2 separate regions of the Homo sapiens genome follow, and region 2 is linked to region 1. Evidence: fine-mapped expression QTL. Tissue or cell type: whole blood. Region 1 holds a variant in brackets; the other region holds the start of a gene. All regions are shown on one strand. Distances are between the middles of the regions.

Region 1 (10,576 bases):
TATCACAAGCAGTCAAATTCTAAAATGGTATGTGTAGAGAAAAGAAGCAACAGAGTTCTTGCCATTCCTAATTCTGATTACCCTAATTTGGGATAAATATTTCCTTCTTAATTAATTGGTTAATGCATTAAGATTGTGAGCTGAAAGGTATCATAAGTGCAATTATTATTTGTATGAGGATTCTTCGTTCATAATTGGCAAAAAGTGAAACAAAAGGAATAACCAAAAATCATAACAAATAGCATCAGCATTTAAAAGCAAATTTCTAGAAATGATTACTATAGGACTTTAAACAAATTTTTTACATCAGTGATATGATTTTTAATATTTTTAATATTCAGAAGGCTTTTTATGTAAGTGCATATATCAACATTATCAGTTATACCTTCTTACTGATAAATTCCTGCTGTCAGTCTCTCCACAGCTCTACCATGTTCTTTTTCTCCTTACTTTCTCGTCTCAAGTTCATTAGTTGAGAAGGATGCTTACTATTACTCTGTCCAAATTTGGTAGTGGTTTTCTCAATTTTGGGCATTTCATGTTCAATTAAAATTTATTTAATTGAACTTTTGAAAGAACTTTCCCAGCCATATAGAGATGTATTTACATTATAGATTCATTTCCAGATAACAGTCACACAGAGACTTCTTTTCTGTTACTTTTTTCTTGCCTTTGATAATGACATTAATAATTTAATAATAAACTATTAACATATTAACAGATATAATAGATGTTAATATTAATATAATTTATGTGTGGTTCTATAAGAATAGACACTTCGATATCATGATAGAAAGATTCTTGATTATGATGCAACTTGAATATATTAAACACTAAACTTTCAGCTTATGATGCCATTAACAGAACTTTTAACTTATGATGCCTTTAATACTTTATTCCTGTGATAAGATGTGAATGGAAGGAAAAAATAAATATTACTTTTTGGTGGAAAAGTGTACCCAGTTGTTTATTCATACAGAAAATAATTATTGAATGTCAGTTTCTGTATGCCAGGCACTGTTTCAGGCACCTAGGATACTGTGGTGGACCAAAATCTTATACTCATATCTTTTCTCCCAAGTGAATTTTGCTATATCATTATTGTGCTCCTCTATAAAGAATTAGAATAACTTCATAATAATAAAAAATTATAAGTTGACTCCATTAAAAAAAAGCTGAAAAACAGCTGATTAAATCCTATTGTATGTAAAACTGAATTTTGTTTTATGCGTGCTTCTAGATAAATAGTGATAGAGTTCTTGAGTGTTTTAATGAAGTGTTTTAATGCAGGTGAATGCTTTGGACTGATGTCAACAGTGAATGTTAATGATTTTTGAGCATGGTTGGCACTATGAATTGGTTGTTTTTAATTTTTTGAAACTAAGTACATTGACGCAGATTTATATGATCTGATGATATCTTATTGGCTATGATTAACCAGAATATGTGATATTTAAACGTTGAAAATGCATTAAAGGATCAAGAAAACAGCTTGTCTTTATGACTTTTTTTTTTTAAGTTTTAAAAACACTGAGCCAAATTTTGGATTTAACATTCCCAAGCTATGGCCTAAGAGAAAGACAAATTTAACAGAATGAGAGTAAATGAAGGGCTGGCCCATCAGTGATCTCTTTTTATAAATTTACAACTTCCAAGAAAAGCTAACTAATAGAAGTATATCATGTCTTGCTTTTTCACAAGATGTAAAATACGGGAATACATGTAGACTAAGAATGGTAAATTTTTAAGTTACCTCGTTTGTAAGGGAAAAAAGATTCCCCTTTTTTCTCATTTACATTTAAAATAAATCCTCAATATTATATGGAACTATTTATAATATAGTGAAACCCATTTTATTTGAACATACAAATATAAAAATTTCTGGTAGTCTGCAGCTAATATGCACTGTCTGAAGCTAATAGGTTGTGCAGAATACTGCTGCTATTTGAGTAAAAGTTAATGCTTTTGAGACCAGCTAATACACTTAACTACACTGTATGAGCTGTGGGTGTTCCGCTTATTTTTATTACAGGCTTTATTACTGTGCAATTTTGTTGTACATTAACAATCATCCACTTTAAACTAGTGCTTAAATACTTATTGAATGTGGTAGCCAAAGAGCAAAAAAAAGATCTCAATGTAACATCCAATTGCTTACTAACATAACCTGGATTGTGATTTATCTCTAATTTTATGACAGTAATATTTCAGTATCAAACTAGAATTCTGAAGAGAATAAAGTTTGCATCCCCCAAATGACACAATTGTGCATTAGCTCTACTTAACTAGACAAAATTTAAAGGCAAAAAATTCTTGGTACGAAACAGATACTCCCAAAATGATCACCCTATGTGTGTCCAAAGGAGTTCTCACTATATTGTGTAAGTCTTCTTCCCTCCATTATTTAAATAGTTATAAATTTTCATTTTATTATGTGTATATTAGACTATATATTTTATAATTTTCCTCTCTGTAAATGTACAAATATGCAAACTTGTATAAATTAGGTAATTGCATAAAAATTGAAAGGCATAAAGATGTACTACTGAGTTCAGGAAACAGTTGGATTGGGGGTGTGTTTAATAAGTAGCACAATTAAGATGTGAGAAGGAAAAACTGAAGAAAAGGAAATTCTCTCAGTGTAATGCTTTATTAGCTCCAATTTTCCCCTTGTCTCTTATCTGAAGCAAGTGATTTTTTTCCATTTGCTTAAAAATAAAGCATTTGCGCACAGAATGTTAGCTCATTAAAAAGACCTTTATTGCCATAAATCGCTGCATCATTTGCATATCCAGATTCACAGAATCAAATTACAGTTCAACCAAGTATTTAGTATCTGGAAAGCAGTCTTGGTTTCATGTCTACTTATTTTCCCAAAACTCTTGTTAATTCTCCTTATAGTTGTTTTCTTAGTGGCTGAAATTAAGTGATGTCTAGTAAATAAGCCAGATTGCTTCTTAAATAAAATCTGGCCTGTTATTTATGTCCCCACCTATTGTTTCAAACTCTATAATTTGAACTTACACACTTGAAATCAATAGTAATAGTTATGGTGATAGGGACAGGTGATGGGATAAGGATTTTATTAGTAGAATCAGTCATGAGTCTAAAACTGCACTGCTAGATACAACACACAATAATAACTGCTAGAGATAATACTTAACCGTAACCTGCAGAGTAAATATTCTTAATCCTAGTTTACAGAATAAAAAGCTTGGAGATAAAAGTTAAGTTACTTGGTGTGAGGTCTGATTCACACAGCCAGTAAGTGGTGGTTTTGGTCACTTCCTCCTCACCCCTTTGACAAGGGAAGGATTCCTGCCATAGGGTTATGAGGATGGCTGAACACGTCAGTTGGGCTCAGCAGCAGTTAGTTACCTATGTTCACAGCTAAGGCAAAGAGGACCCTGTGCCTCAAGTGGGGTCACGTGGAGTTGCACTTGGGAACAGAGTAAACAACTAGGAGCTATGGGAGGCAGGCTTTGTAGTATCAAGAGGGTGGGGGTATCCCCTGGTTCCCATGGAAGGATGTGATTGGCTTGTTTGAATAATTCCTCAAGCTGACAAGAAACTGAAACCTACTATTCAAGGATAAGGAAGAACTGCATCTGGCCCCTTTGGTAAGGTGGATGGTTTCGCTAGGGGCCTTTATTCATGAGAGCAGAGTGGAGAGGGGAACGTATGGGTTACGTCGGTGGTCCCCAACCTTTTTGGCACCAAGGTCTGGTTTTGTGGAAGACAGTTATTCCACGGCAGGGGCGGGGCAGGCTGGTTTGGGGATGAAACTCTTCTGCCTCAGATCATCAAGCGTTAGTTAGATTCTCATAAGGAGCGCACAGTCTAGATACCTCGCACGCACAGTTCACAATAGGATCCCCACTGCTATGAGGATCTAATGCCACTGCTGATCTGACAGAGGTGGAACTCAGGCAACAATGCTTGCTCCCCAGCCGCTCACCTCCTGCTGTGCGGCCCAGTTCCTAACAGGCTACAGACTGTTAGCAGTCTGTGGCCCAGGGTTTGGGGATCCCTGGGTTAGATCATTCAAGGCCTTCCCGATTTTACCAGGTGTCAAAGCGGCACATGATATTGAACCTTAATTTTAGGTGTTATACCACAGTGGCTAAACTAGAGTTCTGATTGTGAACTTTCATGACTCCAGTGCCCAGGTTCATTCTGCTGTTCCATGATATTTTTCTTCTTGCCAGAATGACATGTTAACATTTCGTTAGTAATTGAGTACTTTGCTTTCACTGGGCATTTCTTAGTCCTGCGTTCTTCAGAATTCGTACACTGTAGCATCTGTTGTATTCTCATAGAAAACTGGAGCGCTCTCATTTAGAAGACATTTGAAGATTTGTTTTCCTTTAAAGGAAAATCTGAGTATAAGTTCTAATTATATCTTGATTTACAGAAG[A/AT]TTTTTTTTTTTTCCTATTCTCAAAGCTGCAGTGAGCTGCGATTGAGCCGCTACACTCCAACCTTGGTGACAGGGCAAGATGCTGTCCCAAAAAACAAAAACAAAAACTATACTCCCTCCCCAAAACAAAATCTTATTTTTCCATGTTCCATCTTATTTTTATTAGAACGTCTTAAGTTCCCCCTCTGCAGCCATGAAACTGGCATACCACAGGTCTGGAATGCCTCTCTGTCTCTCCATTTGTATCTCCGACATTAGACCATTTCAGCCACTCCTGCATGCAGTTACACCCACCTCATTTTTATCACAGTTAGGGAATGTTTCACAGAGTATTTTGCATAATACTATGAGCTGGGTGCTACAAGACATTTAAAAAATAATAGCTGGTTTCTGCCATTGACACTCTCACTGTGGAGAACAAGACATAAGAGTTGTGTAGTGTAAAGGTAAATCAGTACACATAGAACCCAGACTCCTAACCCAGGCCCACAGGCCATACGTGAGCTGGCCCCTGCCTGCTTCTGGAGGCTCATCTCTTGTTCTTTCTCCCTTTCACTTGACTCTGGCCACGTTGGCCTTCCTTCCACTTCCCACACACGCCAGGTTTTTCTCATCCCAGGGCCTTTCTCCTTGTAGTTTACTTGGCCTGAAAAACTCATCCTTACATGTCTGACTCTCTTTTTTCAGGTCTCATTGCAACTACTATTTATAGGGATAGTTCTTCCTTGACCATGCCACCTAAAACTGGCCCTTTTGACTTTTCCATGCATAGTAGGTCCCATGCCACCCACTTAATACCTGTGTAATTTTTCCAAGATGTTTAATTTCTCTGTGCCACAGTTTGCTAATCTGTAAATCCAGGAGTATTTTAATAGATTAGGTTTTTGTGACAGTTAAATGCATTAATATCATGTAAAGTGCTAATTATAAGAATCTCTGGCATATAGTGATTGCTCAGCAAATGCAATCAGTTTCTGACCTTCATCTTCATCATTAAGGGTAAAAGAAGTAGTGTAAAACGTAAGTACTATAGGAGCTCAGAAAGGAGAGGAATGCCGGAGGCCCTGAATCACCATGAACACTTTCCTTGTGACAGTAGAATCGAACCTCACTGCTTCTGTATAGTGTCTGGCATGTTTCCGTCAGACAGGCACTCCCTCCTCCTTTGGATTTCTACGTCCTTTTGGTTCTTTGTGTGATACTTGTATCGTAGATTGTGTATATGTTCTCACAGAAAAGGTCATCCTGCATCTCTGCATCCTCAGCATTGTGTGCCGCACACAGGACAGGTGGCCACTTATTTGATTAACATGAGAAAAACACAGAGATTCCATGAAATCAGCAAGTTTTAAACACCCTCAGTGTGGGCAGTAAATGCAGTATGAGCACAGTGACTACAAAGATCAGTTACTGGAAATGACCAAGTTGGAACAGTGAGGGGCAGACTATTGTATGGTCTTAAATTGGCTTTAGAGTCAGATTAATTCAGCAGATTTGAAGAGCATCATTTCATGCCAGTGTCTAAGCTCAGATTGTAGGATCACAAACATGAACCAGTACAGGTTTCTGTAAAGCATTTTAACTTGATTCAGGTGGGACTTCAGTGAGTAAAGCAAGAAAGGTGTTCCAGACAAGCTTCAGAAAGAGCAAAAGTAAAGGTGCAGAGTTGAGAAGGTTCAGGAATTCAGGTTCTCTAGAGAAAAGATTTCCTCATGCTGGAGCAAGAGGAAATAAGGCTGAAGTGAGGGGGTCCAAATTATGGAGGATTTAGGGTACCAGAACCAGAACATCAGCTTTATTCCATAGGAGCCTGTGGAAGGTTTGAGCAAAGGATTGGCAGAAATAGTACTCAAAATTAGATGATACATTTCTGTATTTTCTGTAGTGATAGAAGTTCCTTGAACTTAAATTTGAAAAGGTTTGAATTAAAAGGGACAGATGTTCTCAAGTTATATACTAGACATTTTCAGTAGTTGTACGGTTTTTGAGCTTTTATTAGTTGGTCCTAAGTAAGTTTTATAGCATTATGATAGGCAGTTGGTGACAGCTTAGTCATGTGTTCTTTCTTGAGTAATAATTAAAGTATTAATATTTTTCCTTTTCATTATATTTTATGCATCATGGTTTGATATATGCTTGAAATATTTACTAAATTAGATATTGCTGCATGTGGTCCATCCCACATATAAATGGAAAAGAGAAACTTAACATAGTTCATAAATTAAAATATTTGGTTTCAGCTGTATTCATATTGAAACCATAAAAGAATCAGAATTACTGTGGGTTTATGATTGTCAGGTTACCACCATCACTACAAATTTTCTGATAACAACATATTAGTATTCTGATAAGGTTTGTGGCTTCTTTGCAAGGATATTTGAATACTACTCAACACACTACATAATGGTTAACTATTGTTGTCTTTATTTTAAGGAAGGCATGAATATTGTTAGATTTGCCCCTAAGTAATTGAGTGATCATTTTTATATACAAGAAAATCAGAGTAGAATGCAAAATTTGGAACAGGAACTCAATAATACTTATAAATAAGTTGATTCAAAGAAATGTTTCAATTTCTTGACATTGAATTCATGATGTTTTGCTTTTAACATGTGATTTTTAAAAAATACTGTTATGTGTACAGGGGAAGGCTAACCTGAGACTTTCCCTTCATGCGTATTCTTCCTGTGCACTGCAAAAGGAAACTGTGTGACTGCTTTCCTTCCTGACTGGCCATCACATAGGGTTACTGGCAGATGCCAGGAATCCAAGGACTAAAGGAATAAAGGGTGTGTGTTATAGTACCTGCGCTAAGAGATACTGTCAAACTCAGAGGCACCCCTCCTCCTCCATGTCTTAACCCTAGAATTGTTTTAGAACTTCTTATGGATAAGTGTTTGGATTAAGGGAGATCTGGGAAATGGGATTTGAATTTTAAGCAAGTGAGCCCTGGGGATGGCTAGCTGCCCAAAGTCTCTAGGACCCCAAAGAGATTATGAGAGAGAACGTTGAGAGGTCTGGAATGAATTATACATACTCTTATAATGAACTTTCTCCAGCTTGTCCTTGAGCAGCTGTCTCCATCCCATCCCTCAAGTGCTTTGGAACCCACATCTTATAACAATGGAAAGATAGATAACCTTTTATTTTAATGTGTTTATTTTTATTTTAATGTATTTAAGTAGTTTAAACACTTTCAGCGAAAACGCATTGTATTTCTCACTCCATTCCTCAATCCAGATGTATAACTAAAGTACCATAGTGCTGTCCATTATTAGCCCATTTTGTGTTTTAACCTATACAGTTTGAGGAACAAGAAACCTACCTGACATCAAGATTATACTATCAGTGAAGCCAGAGAAGCTATACTTATTCATTGTAGACATTCTTATCTTTTTAAATTTTTTATATTAAAAAAAAAAAAGAGGCTGGGCATTGTGTATCACGCCTGTAATCCCAGTGCTTTGGGAGGCCGAGGTGGGTGGATCACGAACGAGGTCAGGAGTTCAAGACCAGCCTGGCCAAGATGGTGAAACCCCATCTCTACTAAAAATACAAAAATTAGCCAGGTGCAGTGGCAGGTGCCTGTAATCCCAGCTACTCGGAGGGCTGACGCAGGAGAATCGCTTGAACTCAGGGGTCGGAGGTTGCAGTGAGCCAAGATCACGCCACTGCACTCTAGCCTGAGTGACAGAGTGAGACTCTGTCTCAAAAGAAAAAAAGGAAAAATAATGGGGTCTCACTATGTTGCCCAGGCTGGTCTCAAACTCCTGGACTCAAGCAATCCTTGCATCTCGTCCTCCCAAAGTGCTGAGATTACAGGCATGGGCCATTGTACCCGGCTATCTTATCTTCTTTATATAGATATCTAATAAGATGTAAAATACTGACCTGCATTATCTCCATGTTAACATTTACACTTCAAAATCTGTAAACGGACCCACGTTCATACGCGTGAACAGAAATCTTTCAGCAACAAAAGAGAAAATTGTATTTCTCGATAGAAAGGAAGTGGTCAGATCATGCCAGCCAAACAAATCTGTCAGGCTTTGAAATATAGAACCGTTAGGTAAGATACTGAGAAAAAGGATAAAGTAAGATCAGCCTAAATGTTTCAGTCTAGTTAAGTTGATTTGTATATTACTTAGAAATTTCATTTTCAGGGAAATAGTTTTCAGATTTAAATAACTGTAAAGAGCTGAGTTATTCTTTGACTTGGATTTAAAAAAAAAGAAAAAAAGTGTCCTGAAGTCATTTCCTGCCAGTTTGTCCCCCCAACTTTTTTTCCTGCTCTTCCTGTAACTGGTTCTTGTTACGGCAATGTAGCTGTATATTTAAATCCTAAGAGACTCGCTTATTGTGAGTAGGCAGGGTCAGTAGTCTGCTGAAACAAGCACAGGAAACTTGAAACACCTAGGGGCTATTTTAAAAATCCCTTGCCACTGACATTTTAGTTAGAATTCTAAAGAGAGAATGGGCTGTTTGGATACTGAGCTCCAGTACAAAAGAGCTGGGGTTTTTACACCGACTTGCAAACCACTAAAATCATTTGACCTGGTGTTGTGTCACTTGGGTATTCTGAAGCATCAGATGAAAACTAATATCCACCCTGCAAGGTTGGCAGGCAACAATTGTACCTGTGAAGTGAGCATCTATCAAAGAATTGGGGAAGGAAGGCCGGGCGCAGTGGCTCACGCCTGTAATCCCAGCCAGTACTTTGGGAGGCCAAGGCGGGCAGATCACGACGTCATGAGATCGAGACCGTCCTGGCTAACACAGTGAAACCACGTCTCTACTAAAAATCCAAAAAAAAAAAAAAAAAAAAATTAGCTGGGCATGGTGGCGGGCGCCTGTAGTCCCAGCTACTCGGGAGGCTGAGGCCAGGGAATGGCGTGAACCCGGGAGGCAGAGCTTGCAGTGAGCCGAGATCGCGCCACTGCACTCCAGCCTGGGCGACAAAGCGAGACTCCGTCTCAAAAAAAAAAAAAAAAGAATTGGGTAAGGAAACTTAATGTGTGGAGGAGATGCCACCATCTCTGAAGCACAGACTTTGTTAGAGGAGCTCACTGACTTGTTCCTAATAGTCATGTGGTTGGGGCAGGCCTCTAGCACTGCTGACAGGTAGCATTGATTCTGTCTCATCTTTAAGTTATAGCGTATTCAGTATTGCTTTATGCTATTATTTTTGAAAGGAAGTTGTTAACTGTACAACACTTTAGGTGATATTATGAGCTAACTATTTTAAATATATCATTTTTTTTAATTACCAAAAGCAGTGTCAGAAAATGAAACTCTTCATTTGGGTCGTTTAAAACACATTTGCTTTTGGTGTACCACTTATATTCAAAGACGTTTCATATTTATTTAAGTACTTTAAGAATGTTATTACAAAGCCTTGCTTTGTGATTTAAATTGAAGTTCCCTAGTGTTCATATTGTTAGTTAGAAATTTAGATTTTAGTTCTGTGACTTTTATATTGTTGATTGTAACTTTGGACTTATGTGGCCTGTGTAATACATGCTACAAAAATAAAATCTGGGAGTAAAAGAACATATGTATATTTTAATAAAGACCTCATTAAACATTAGTAACAATAGGATAAGGAATATTAACTGAAACAGACAGGAAATCAGGGTGAAGATCAGGCAGAACTGATCCTTTTATTTACACCAAACTAAATGCACTAAAGAGAAGTTTTAATGAACTTAAGGAGAATACCAAAACATTTCTAAATTTAAAAAAAAAAATGAATCCTGCTACTGATGGGTATATAGCATTAATCTCCCACCCAACCCCCCAAAAAGGACTTGTCTGGCTTCTTGTAAGAGAGGGTGATATTTCATACCTTAATCTTGTGATTAATTCCAAGTATTAAGATCTGTCTTCTGATCCTAAGTGTTCGTAAAGACATATAAAGCATTTTTATGAACTCTTATGCCCTCCTATGTGTAAGGAAGAAAGTCTTACTATGAAGTATAGTTTTAAGTATACTAAATTAAAATGCCTTACATAAGGCACTGAGCTTTCTGTGTTGTTTTCTATAAGATCTTATAAAAGCCTGTTTTATGAGCTTTTATTTTTTGATGTCAGAGCGTTTTTTAAAATCCAAAAGAAATTTTCAAAAGGTAGAATTTTGTAAGTGAATAACTTAGCCAGCCA
Region 2 (10,576 bases), 230 kb before region 1:
TTTTCTTTATAGAGGCTGCAGAGAAAGCCAGAGCGTTCATGAAATACTGGAAAATATTCATTAGTATACTTTCTGAATTCATAAAAAATAGTAAAGAGCTTGTGTATTCTTTGAAATGGTTGTTGATATGAATGATGTGAAACAGTTACACCCATCTCCACAATTCTATAGTCTGGGGAAATGGCAGCTGAAAAAGCAGGTATATTTATTAATTCAACCAACCCTCAGGGATGCTTTTTCTTTTTACTAATGTGTAGGTGTGGAGATAAATAAAGCATGGTGTATGCCCTTCAGAAGTTCACAGCAAAGTAAAGAGTGTAGGCTTTTAAACAGTGTAAGGTACAGGGAGACATGCGGTGTGGCTGACCTAGAAGACTATTTGCAAGAGAAAGTGGCAAACTCAAGTGAGAGAATTACACCTAGACTTGAGGGTGAGATGATCTCCCACTTATCAAAGCACCAGGAAGACTAGTAGCTCACACTTCTATTGTACTTACTTTGCTTCAAGTCTATTCAAGTCGCAGACATACATTAACTCATTTAATCTTCCCTCTGACCCTATATAAGAATTGGCCATTCAAATAAGCCCCATTTGTAGGGGAGAACTCTGAGGCAGTAAGAAGTTAAACCACTTGCTCATGGTCACATAAGCAGCAGCAGAACCAGGATCTAGAAACAAGATAGCTCAGTTCCAAAGCATCTCTGCAATGCCCAGGAAAGGCGCCAACCAGGGCAAGGCTTTTCCGTCTGCTTCTTTCTGAGGTTTCTCCATATTTTTATTTATTGTACTAATAGCATTATAATAACTACAACAAAGAAAACCTCAACTACAATCTCATTGCTCAACAAATCTCCGATTCTTTCCTTTCTGTTTGGTTAGTCCTCTCCACAGCCAGTTCTTCGTTTCTTACTCCTGTGGTATCTAAAGACAGCCCCTCAGAACCACTTTTCTTTTTTTTCCTGGCCTGTGCTGTCTCTTGAGATCCTTTACTTATGTCTCAGTACCTCCTTAAGCCTCTATGTTTGCAGTTACTGAGAAGTTAGGTGCAATAGTCCATTTCAGGAGTTAGTGGGACTCCTCTCCCTGGAAGACCTACCATGACAGCAACCTCCTTGATACATGGAGAACTTGAGGGGGAACTTCATCATTAGTGAGCAGAGAGCATGGTGTAGTAATCATCTATTGATGCATAACAAATTACCCTTAAAACTTAGTGGCTGAAAATAACAAACATTATCTCCAGATTCCAGAGTGGCTTAGCTGGGTGTTTCTGGCTCAAGGACTTTCAAGAGTTTGCAGTTAAGATGTTGATCAGGGCTTCATTATCTGAAGGCTTAGCTAAGGCTGAAGGATCTGCTTTAAAGCTTACACATGTGGATGTTAGCGGGTCTTATTTTTTAGTCACATGGGCCTCTCCACAGGGCTGCTCACAATATGGCAGCTAGCTTTCCCCAGAGTCAGTGACAGCAAAGAGAGAGAGAGAGCATCAGTGTGTGCGCAACCAAGATGGAAGCCCTAAACTAATCTTGGAAGTGACATACCCTCCTTTCTCACAGCATTACACCAACCCTAGCATGACGTAGGAGGGGATTACACAAGGGTGTGAATACCAAGAGGCAGGGATCAGTGGGACATCTTAGAGACTGATTACCATACTCAGGCAACGTCTAGGGGTGAGAGGAGCAGCCACACTTCTATGTTTGCATCTTAATTTACATGAATGGCACCCCCTGATACTTTGCAGTGTACAAAATACACGATCATACATAGTGGTCCAGGTAGCAGTTCCTGAACAAATGGGGAAGTCAGGGGAATTTGTCCTCAGTACACTTCTATTCCCTGCTAGAATTTCATTTATTTATTTATGAAACAAACATTTTTTTAAAGCACCTGGTCGTACCTTTGCGTTGGTACTGAACTAGGTAGGTAATGGGGTTGCAGTTCTATTGGAGTTTCAATTTTCCTACACCACTGTTGCCCTTAAGTATCCAAAACATTCGGGGTGACTACAGCCTCCTTCAAGCCAGACAGTATGCAACAGATCATTGTTTTCTATCCCATTCTTTGGAAAACCTGAGCTAATATGATGTTTCTTTCAAAGGGTATAATATAAATATGTAATAACCCCTGATAATTGGGTGCCTAACAAGAACAGAAGTTGCCTAAATAAGTAGCAGGGCTCTACCAGTATAATGCTTCTGCTCAAATTCAGCCCAGTTCCCCTGAGAGAGGTCTTTTCTATCACCCATCCAGTCAAACTGGAAAACTAACTGTGGCTCTACTTACTCACGAAGTTGGCAGTAACAACGTTTTAAGAAGGACCCTTCAAAAAACATTCCAATTTGCCAGTTGCAGGGGGAAAAAACGTAGGCTCTAAATTAATGATCAGAAATAAGAAATGTAAGAAAGGAGTGAGTTCATGACGACAGACTGATGGACCAGAGCAGAAAATATAAGGAAGATGAGCTATTTGTCTTGGAGACCAAGTTTGCACCGCAGAAGAGAGAAATAGAGAAAATCAAATAAATATTTATGTCTGTAACACCAGACTCATGGTAAAGTGTCCTTAAGTTCACAGACTCCAGAGCCAAACTGCTGATTTCGAGTCCCAGCTCTGCTCCTCACTAGCTATGTGACTGTAGGTGAGTGACTTAATCCCTCCGTACCTCAGTATTCTCATCTGTACAGTGGGGCTGATTGGATAAAACCAACCTGTGTGGTGGTTGTGACCTAGTATAACTAAAGTGCTTAGCATGCTGCCTAGCACAAATTAAGAACACGGTAAGTACTAATTATTGAAGAAATTAGAAACAATACCTATTGTGTCATCAACTGAAAGAGACCAATTTCTTTCACTCGGTCATTATCTATTGAATATATACAGCACTGAACCCCAGACGACGAAATCCTTTTTCTCAAGGTGCTTTTACGTGGGAGGGCTGGGAGAGGGAGGAAAAAGAAAGCAGAAGGGGGAAACTAATAAATAAGTAAAAAAATGTATTATGTCAGGTGGTGATCATGGAGAAAAAGCAGAGGATGTGGATAGGAAGTTCTGGGGGAGGAGTGGGAGGAAAGAATGTTCTAGAGATAGGAAATAGTAAGTACACAGGTCTTGAGGCTGAGGAATGCTTGGTGTGTCCATAACTGCAAGGCCGGTGTGGCTGGAAGGAGACGAGGATGGAGTGAAATCGTACAGCTTGAGGTCAGGGGAATCCTGGCTGGGAATGGTGGGCACATCATGCAGGCCATGTATCCATATTTTGCACTTTGGCTGTTGCTCTATGATGGGAAGCCACTGGAATTTTTGAGAAGAAGAGAGACATAATCTAATCTTTGTTTTAAAGGACAGTCGGCTGTGTGTAGGTGTTGGGGAGGGAGGAGGCGGAGAGTGGGAGGTAGAAAGATCAGGTAGGAGATAATTATTGAGAGATGATGCCTTAGACCAGGACATTAGCAGTGGGGAGGGGAGTGAGACGGAGTGGACATTTTCACCATATATTTGTGAAAACAGAGTCAACAGAATTTGCTGACGAATGTGATGCTGAGTGTACAACAGAGAAGGTTCAGACATAGGGAAGTTCTGAGGACAAGGATTTTTTTCTTTTATTCAATGTCATATATCTACCACCTAGACAGTGCCTGGTATCAATAAATATTCCTTGAATAAATGAAAAGGGTAACTGATTTGTATTAAACCCATTTTGAACTTAGTAAATAGCAGTTAAAACATCTACAGTCAAATGAAGTACTGTAGCAACCATAATTTCAGCAATTAAGCAGTGAAAGATCTTCCAATCCTTTCCTCCACAAAGATAGAAGTTAATTTTGCTGCATCCCTGGACACCCCGTTGCCAACGACCCAGCATTCCGTTGGTAAGTGAGGCTGGAGGTTGGAGTGGGAGAAATTTCGTGGAAGCTAAGTTCGCAAAGCAGGTACGTTTTTTTTTTTTTTTTAAACGGTTATTTGGGATGAGGAGTACAACGGAACCTAATGTTCCCTCATGCCACCTACAGCACTGCTACTGTTCCCATATCCTTCAACTGGGCATGAAGGCAGCTTCCCACTCACTCTGACAGTGGTGCACCCTGTACCCCCACCCCTCTCTTCAATACCCCAGGGCTAAACGGCCCGAAGCTCCTCTCTACCGGCTGGTGCGCATTCTGGGCCAGGGCGAGCCAAAAGGCAGAAGGGCCTTCGTGCTGCAGTGTCTGGTGAAGACTCAGGCTTAGCCTGGAAGAAGTTTCCAGGCCAACGTGAAGTTTTCCTGTCTTGGGTACATGCGAGCCCCACGCGTCTGCGAGTTTGGGTTAGTGTGTCAACAGGGTCAGTCCCCGTATCTACTTTGCGAAAGCTTCGAGGCGAGCGTGAAGTCAAGGGCTGCGGTGGATGGGGGTAAAAGGCCTCCTCGTCCCACTGCCTGCACCGTCTTGGGGTAACCCCTAACCCCCAGCCGGCGTTTCCCTTTAATGCGCGTGCCCGGCAAGGTCCTCGCGTCCCCTCCCCTCAAGCCACCCCGTCAGCCTCGGTTTCCCCCACTTCTCCCCGTCCTTGTCGTTCCTTCCCCGTGGGACGCCCCTCGCTCACCCCCGTCAGAGCCCAGTCTGCGCGCGGGACCCAGCTGTCACTTTACTTTTCCTCGCCGCCTCCCCACCCCCTCTCCCGACCGGCGGGGCAGCCCGCCCGGGCGCGCTCCCGCCCCCGCCCCCTCGCGGCCGCGCGCCGGAGGAGGAGGGGCGGGGGGAGGAGGGAGGCGCGCGGCGCCGCATGGCCGACGTGGGGCTCGCGCTCTCGCGGTCTCTCCCGGGCGGGCGCGCAGGCACGCGCACTCGCGGGTGCGCGCGCGGACGGCCGGGCGGCGGCGGCTCCCGGAGGTGGTGGCTTCACTTTCCAGGACTCAGGGGCAGCCACAGCGACAGCCGCGGGCAGCAGCCTCAGGAGCCGGAGCTGGAACGGCCGGGGGCGGCGGCAGCGGCGGCGCTGAGGGTGAGTCCGGGCGGGCGCGAGCGCGGCGGGGACAGGCGTGGTCGGGTGCGTGGTGCGTGGGTCCGGCTTTCGGTGACTAGACGGTCCGCAGGGGACATCCCGTCCCTGGGGCCTCCCCAGTCTCCCTCCCCCTCGCGCCTGGGCAGCTCTCTCCCAGGGCTTCGGCTCGAGCCTGCGACCTGCACGGACACCCCCCCCTCAGGTATTCGCTCGGGCCGCGCCGGTGCCTCCCCTCCTCGGGCGTCCTCCCTCTCGCTGACGTCCTCCTCACTCCCCCGACCTCCCCTCCGCGTCGCAGGTCTCTGCTTACACCGCTCGTGCCCTAGTTCCCTCCTTCCTCGCTCCCCGTGCCCGGTTCCCTACGCCCCCTCCCGCGAGCCTCCTGCCCCCGTTTCTCGCCCTTTCTACCCCTCCCCCTTCTTCCCATCCCCCCCTTCTGCCTCTTCTCTCCCTGTCCTCCTTCTACCCCCTTCCGTTCTCAGTTCCCCATCCTTCTCAACCCTCCCAGCGCTTTCCTTCTCCTAGCCGCATCCTGGAACTAAGTCTTTTCAAAAGTACAGGATAAATGTCACGGTGGAAAGTGCCCGGCTTGATCTTTTGCTATTTTCCCTAATTGCATAATTGCTGCACATGGTGTGTCTCCTGGCGAGTGCCGGGTTTGGCTCCTTCGCCGCCGCACCCCGGTGGCCCGCCCGGAGAAGACCTTGTGGGGTATATTTGTGTGTGTCCTGGTGAGGGGTGTGTGTTGTATTGGTCTTTTGTGATGCCTGGCGCTTGTCACAGTTTGGAACCGAAGCCCATTTTTCTCTGGTCTCTTCTCTGCAGCCCCCACTGGCCTGGTTTGAAACTGGATTCCCTCTGTCCTCTCCCCCTTCCCGCCCACCCCACTTCTCCCCCTCTTTTCTCCGATCTCTCTCATAATGTTTTGATCTTTTTGCCCTTTACCATTTCTAATGAAGATAAAGCGTGGCTTCTTGTGGCTTTTTTCCCCCACGACCAACCAGAAATGTCCAATCCATCTTCCCTTAAGGAAATTAAGGCTGCTTTAGAAAGACATCATCCTGTGCTCGGTGGCTGTTAGACCCATTTGCATGTTTTCAAGATTCATCGTTTTGTATTGTGTATTCTTGAGAGTCTACTAAAATATTTTTATTTAAAAGTACGAAAGGAAGTGCTAGGGTTTACCCTCAAAGTATCTCGCGGTTCTAAAGGATTTTACGCTCTTCTTAGTTTTTAATCCCTGATTTCTTTAAAAAGTATGTTTCTAGATATGTGATAATTCAGTCTGGACTTTGTGAATCTAAATATTTGCCTTTACTACGGCAATTTGGATGCTCCTTGGCTCTTTGGAATTCTGTATGTGGGCTGACGCTGAAATAGAGTGTTTTCATATAATGCCATACCCCATTCTCTTTCCCCTGCAGCACCTTTTACCCCCAAATCAGGTGTTCCACTGTTATTTTCTGCATAAATGTCTTTGCAGTTAAATTTAAAGCTGGATATTGCTGTGTGCATATACTATATATTTATTTTACATTTTAGAAAAGTTTAGAAACATGAGTAGGAAGACAGCAAGACATATATGACAGAATTAAACGCTTTCCTGTTATAAAAGCTTAAATGAACACTTGGTTTTGCAGTTTTATACTAGTAGATACTGTTATAAGGCTTACCTGGGTAGTAGGCTGGATTTATGGAATGACTATAGTTGCCTTTATGTAGTCAGTAATATTTCAAGCCAAATCATTTCATTTTTATGGAACATGTGAGTTTCATTCACTGTATGTTGCTAATTTCCAGGACTGTAATTACAACATAGGGTACATAGCTAATACAAGCTTAGACAGTTTGTGTTGAAGAAGTAACAATATGTAAGCCTCTTAATATAGTTTTAGGAAGGACTACTTATTTTATGGTTAAAAATTAAATTTTACTTTGAGTTATGAAGTAAGCGTATTTATCTCTCTCAATATCTTTGAAAGTATCATTGGAGAGTAGCTGTTTGTTTATAACCCTGGGATTTAAGTTTATCTTCCCTGTAGATGAGATAATCGGATCAGATTAGCTATTTAGGAATTAATTTTAAAATGCTAATTTAGAAGATAATGTTTAAAGGATTTTAATTCAGGAATTTTTATTCATTTGTACTTCAGAGAGACAAGACATCAAGTTTACACTTACGACTAATTAAATTGATTCATAGACTACTTTTTCTTCATAAAAATTCGTTGCACCTGAGTGGTACAATAATTTTTTTCTATACTTTTTCTGTAATCAAGCATTCAAAAAACAAACCCAGGAGAAATTCCTTTTATTATTGATATTTGAAAAAGAGATGTGAAAACTTTATTTCTAAAAGTTCCTATAGTGGTTATCAATGGCCTCAGATGGACTTATCATTTGTAGGTTAACATTTGGATGAAATATGTCTTAACTCAAAAGTGGGAATAATTCTTTTCCTTAATGTGAAACCAGAAATTACACCTCTGTTGGGGAATTTCTAATAGTATTTTTATTAGTTCTCTGGTGAGACTAATTTTTATTTTAATCTTCCTCTAATATTCGGCAGTAGAAATTTGAGTTTCAGATTATGGCTCAGATCACATCATTGAGTAATCTTTTTAAGTAATTATATAACTATGGCATTCGATAGTATGTAAATGCACATAAATAAGAATATTGAGAAGAATGTGTGGCTTTATAACTAATGTTATACACAACTGAAACTCTCAGCATAGTTTATTAAATCATAGTTTATTACGCTGAAGCTGCATCCTCAGTATAGAGAATATTATTTCATTGAGGTACCCATATATTTGTCATGGAATGGATTGCTCCTGTTTTAAAATGTATAAAATGATTTCTCACTCATTTCACATTTCTTAAGGTATTGCTGGCAGCATTTTGCTATATCTGAGCACCTTTCCCTGAGGATTGTTCTCTTTTTCACTCTCATGCATGCCGCCCTATCTGATATGCCATTATGTACATACTTACAAGATTTTAAACTTCTGATATATTTTAACTGAAAGAAGGTGAAAAAAAATATTAAATCCAAGAATGAGAATTTAGAGTGAAATAAAAATGAAAAAAAGCAAGAAATATGTTACGACTTTTAGAGCTAGATGTGAAACATACTGATATAAAATTTCAGTGTTCTATTAAGTGACTTTAGTGCTCATAAAAGATGTCACAGCTGTGGAGACTGGTGCTCTTCATTTACAGAATAGGTAGAAAAGTAGTCAGCTTTTCCGTTAGTATGTTTCAGAGCTGTTGGGGCAGATCTGTTTCTGTTTGGCATGGGGAGCTGTTGGGGTTGAAGGGGTGCTGGTGGTGGTGTGTGTGGTGTGTCAGTGAAAGGATTCACTATTTTCTGTTGACTCTTTGTGGCTCTGTGCTTCCTGATGCTTCCATTCTTTTGCAGTGCTTTTTGGTTTGTCTTACAAAAATTTCAGTCCATTAAAGATCGGTGTTACAACATTGCTTTGGCTTAGAGCAAGCTACAAGTTAAATCTTTAGTGATGATGAATTTTCATCAGTGTCAAATAGCTATCCATTTGGACTAAGTTATAGTAATTAAAAAATTTTGCTTTATTTGAGGTATCTTTACCTGTTCTTATTCTTGATCATATCAGAAACAGTTTTATTTCAAGTTGTAATTTGATTAAGAGTAATCAAAAGGATCCATTTCAAAAGGAATTTGTTCAGTGTACCTATAATTTTTAAAGATATATTTTTTGCTGTTAATGGTACTTATTAAGTATAGGTATTTTGTTTTTAAAAAGGTGTCTGAGAAGATAGCTATACAGTGCTGAAAGTGATTATTAGGTGACAAAACCATGGGGAGCACAAGGCCTTTTAGAGTCTGGGCATGAGTTTTGTTGGTTCAGTTCTGGATTTGTCAGAACACTTTAAGCTAGTCAGCTCATAAGGGATGTATTCATAGTCATCAAACTCAGAAATTGATTATGATAGAATGACAGTTGAGGAGAGATACTCCTTTTCACTTACTGGAATTGTTTGTGTCTGCTGTCTAGATTATAACAGCTACCTAAATATCAAGGTATTGAGGAAATTGAGTTGGTAATCAGAACTGCTTGGGGGGCCTGAACTCAGAGCAAAGGGAATTTGAAAGCCTTGAGGGATATTTTAGCCAGAATGTGGGGAAAAAAAAAAAAATCTTCAGTGTCTTCATCTCTTGTGAAATATGGTTGCTTTAGTATATAGCTGAATGCTGTCATATGGTTCAATTTTTATTTAGAATCATGCAGTCATGCAGGCCTCTGTGTTCTTCTGTTATCACAAAGGTTACTTAAAACCACTTACTAGTTTGGAGAATTTTAACCTTAGCCCAGCCCTGAGGATGTATTGATTGAATAGGGATTTGAAAGTGTCGTCCCATTTTTGTGTTCCCACAAGTATTTGTACTAACCTTCGTTTTTGTACTTAGCAAGTTGGCTAGTCGAGGTTTTTCACAGTTGTGGGACCAAAGGGCTTAGCACAGCGCCTGGTAGAGAGTAGACCCTTAATCATTTTTGTCTTATTTTCTGTAACAGCATTATTGATATATAATTCACATACTATAAAATTTACCCTTTAAAAATGTACAACTCTGTAGTTCTTAGAATATTTATTATTAGAATTGTGCAAGATTATAATTATCTAATTTAAGAACATTTTTATCACCGCACAGGGAAGCATCATACCCATTAGCCGTCACTCTTCACTACTCTCCCCTCACTCCCTGGCAACCACTTACCCATTTTATTTTTTTATTAATTTTTTTTTTGAGACAGGGTCTTGCTCTGTCACTCAGGCTGGAATGCAGTGGTATCAATCATATTTTTATTTTTTGTAGAGATCGAGTCCCACTACGTTGCCCAGGCTGGTGCTCCCTGAGCTTCCCAAAACATTGGGGATTACAGGCGTGAGGTTCACTACTGAATTTTATGTTTATGGATTTGCCTGTTCAGGACATTTCATATAAATAGTCAAACAGTTTGTGGTCCTTTGTGGCTGGCTTCTTTCACTTACCAGAATGTTTCAAGGTTCATCCATTTTGTAGCATGTAGACACAGTACTTCATTCTTTTTTATGGCTAACAGTACATTATGTGAATATACTACTATATTTTGTTCATCCATTCATTTGTTAGTGGATATTTGAGTTGTTTCCAGTTTTGATTATTATGAATAATGTTGCTATGAACATTTCATGTATAAATTTTGTATGTTTTCATTTTAGAATACATTTTGAATGGATGAAGGAAAAGTTTTAGCAACTCCCAAAGCTGCATTGTTTTGTAAATGACCAATTTAATCCATTTTATATTGAGATTTACTTGTTTTACTTTGAGGCTCATTCTCTGTGTTCTGGAGGTAGCTTACTGTAGTACAGCTAAATAAATGATTTTTGATTCTTTAATCCAGGATCTAAAATGTCCACTGAGGCACAAAGAGTTGATGACAGTCCAAGCACTAGTGGAGGAAGTTCCGATGGAGATCAACGTGAAAGTGTTCAGCAAGAACCAGAAAGAGAACAAGTTCAGCCCAAGAAAAAGGAGGGAAAAATATCCAGCAAAACCGCTGCTA

The links. PIP is the estimated chance that this variant, and not a neighbour inherited with it, causes the effect.
Region 2: it holds the start of UBE2E2, and the variant in region 1 is fine-mapped to the expression of UBE2E2 in whole blood (INTERVAL, PIP above 0.99).

The regions. Positions count from the first base shown.
Region 1 is chr3:23,432,147-23,442,722 of GRCh38, forward strand. All of the region lies in intron 3 of UBE2E2 (ubiquitin conjugating enzyme E2 E2), which reads left to right. Among named protein-coding and RNA genes, the nearest start is that of UBE2E2, 230 kb to the left of the region's middle. RefSeq lists an enhancer at 9,329-9,498 and a cis regulatory region at 9,414. The variant A/AT (reference allele first, on the strand shown) is at 4,418.
Region 2 is chr3:23,198,278-23,208,853 of GRCh38, forward strand. UBE2E2 (ubiquitin conjugating enzyme E2 E2) reads left to right here and starts at 5,050. Exons shown (of 6, transcript NM_152653.4): 1 at 5,050-5,187; 2 at 10,415-10,576. The coding sequence starts at 10,423. UBE2E2-DT (UBE2E2 divergent transcript) reads right to left here and starts at 4,716. Exons shown (of 2, transcript NR_136176.1): 1 at 4,587-4,716. RefSeq lists enhancers at 3,723-4,698, 4,111-4,170 and a silencer at 4,521-5,210.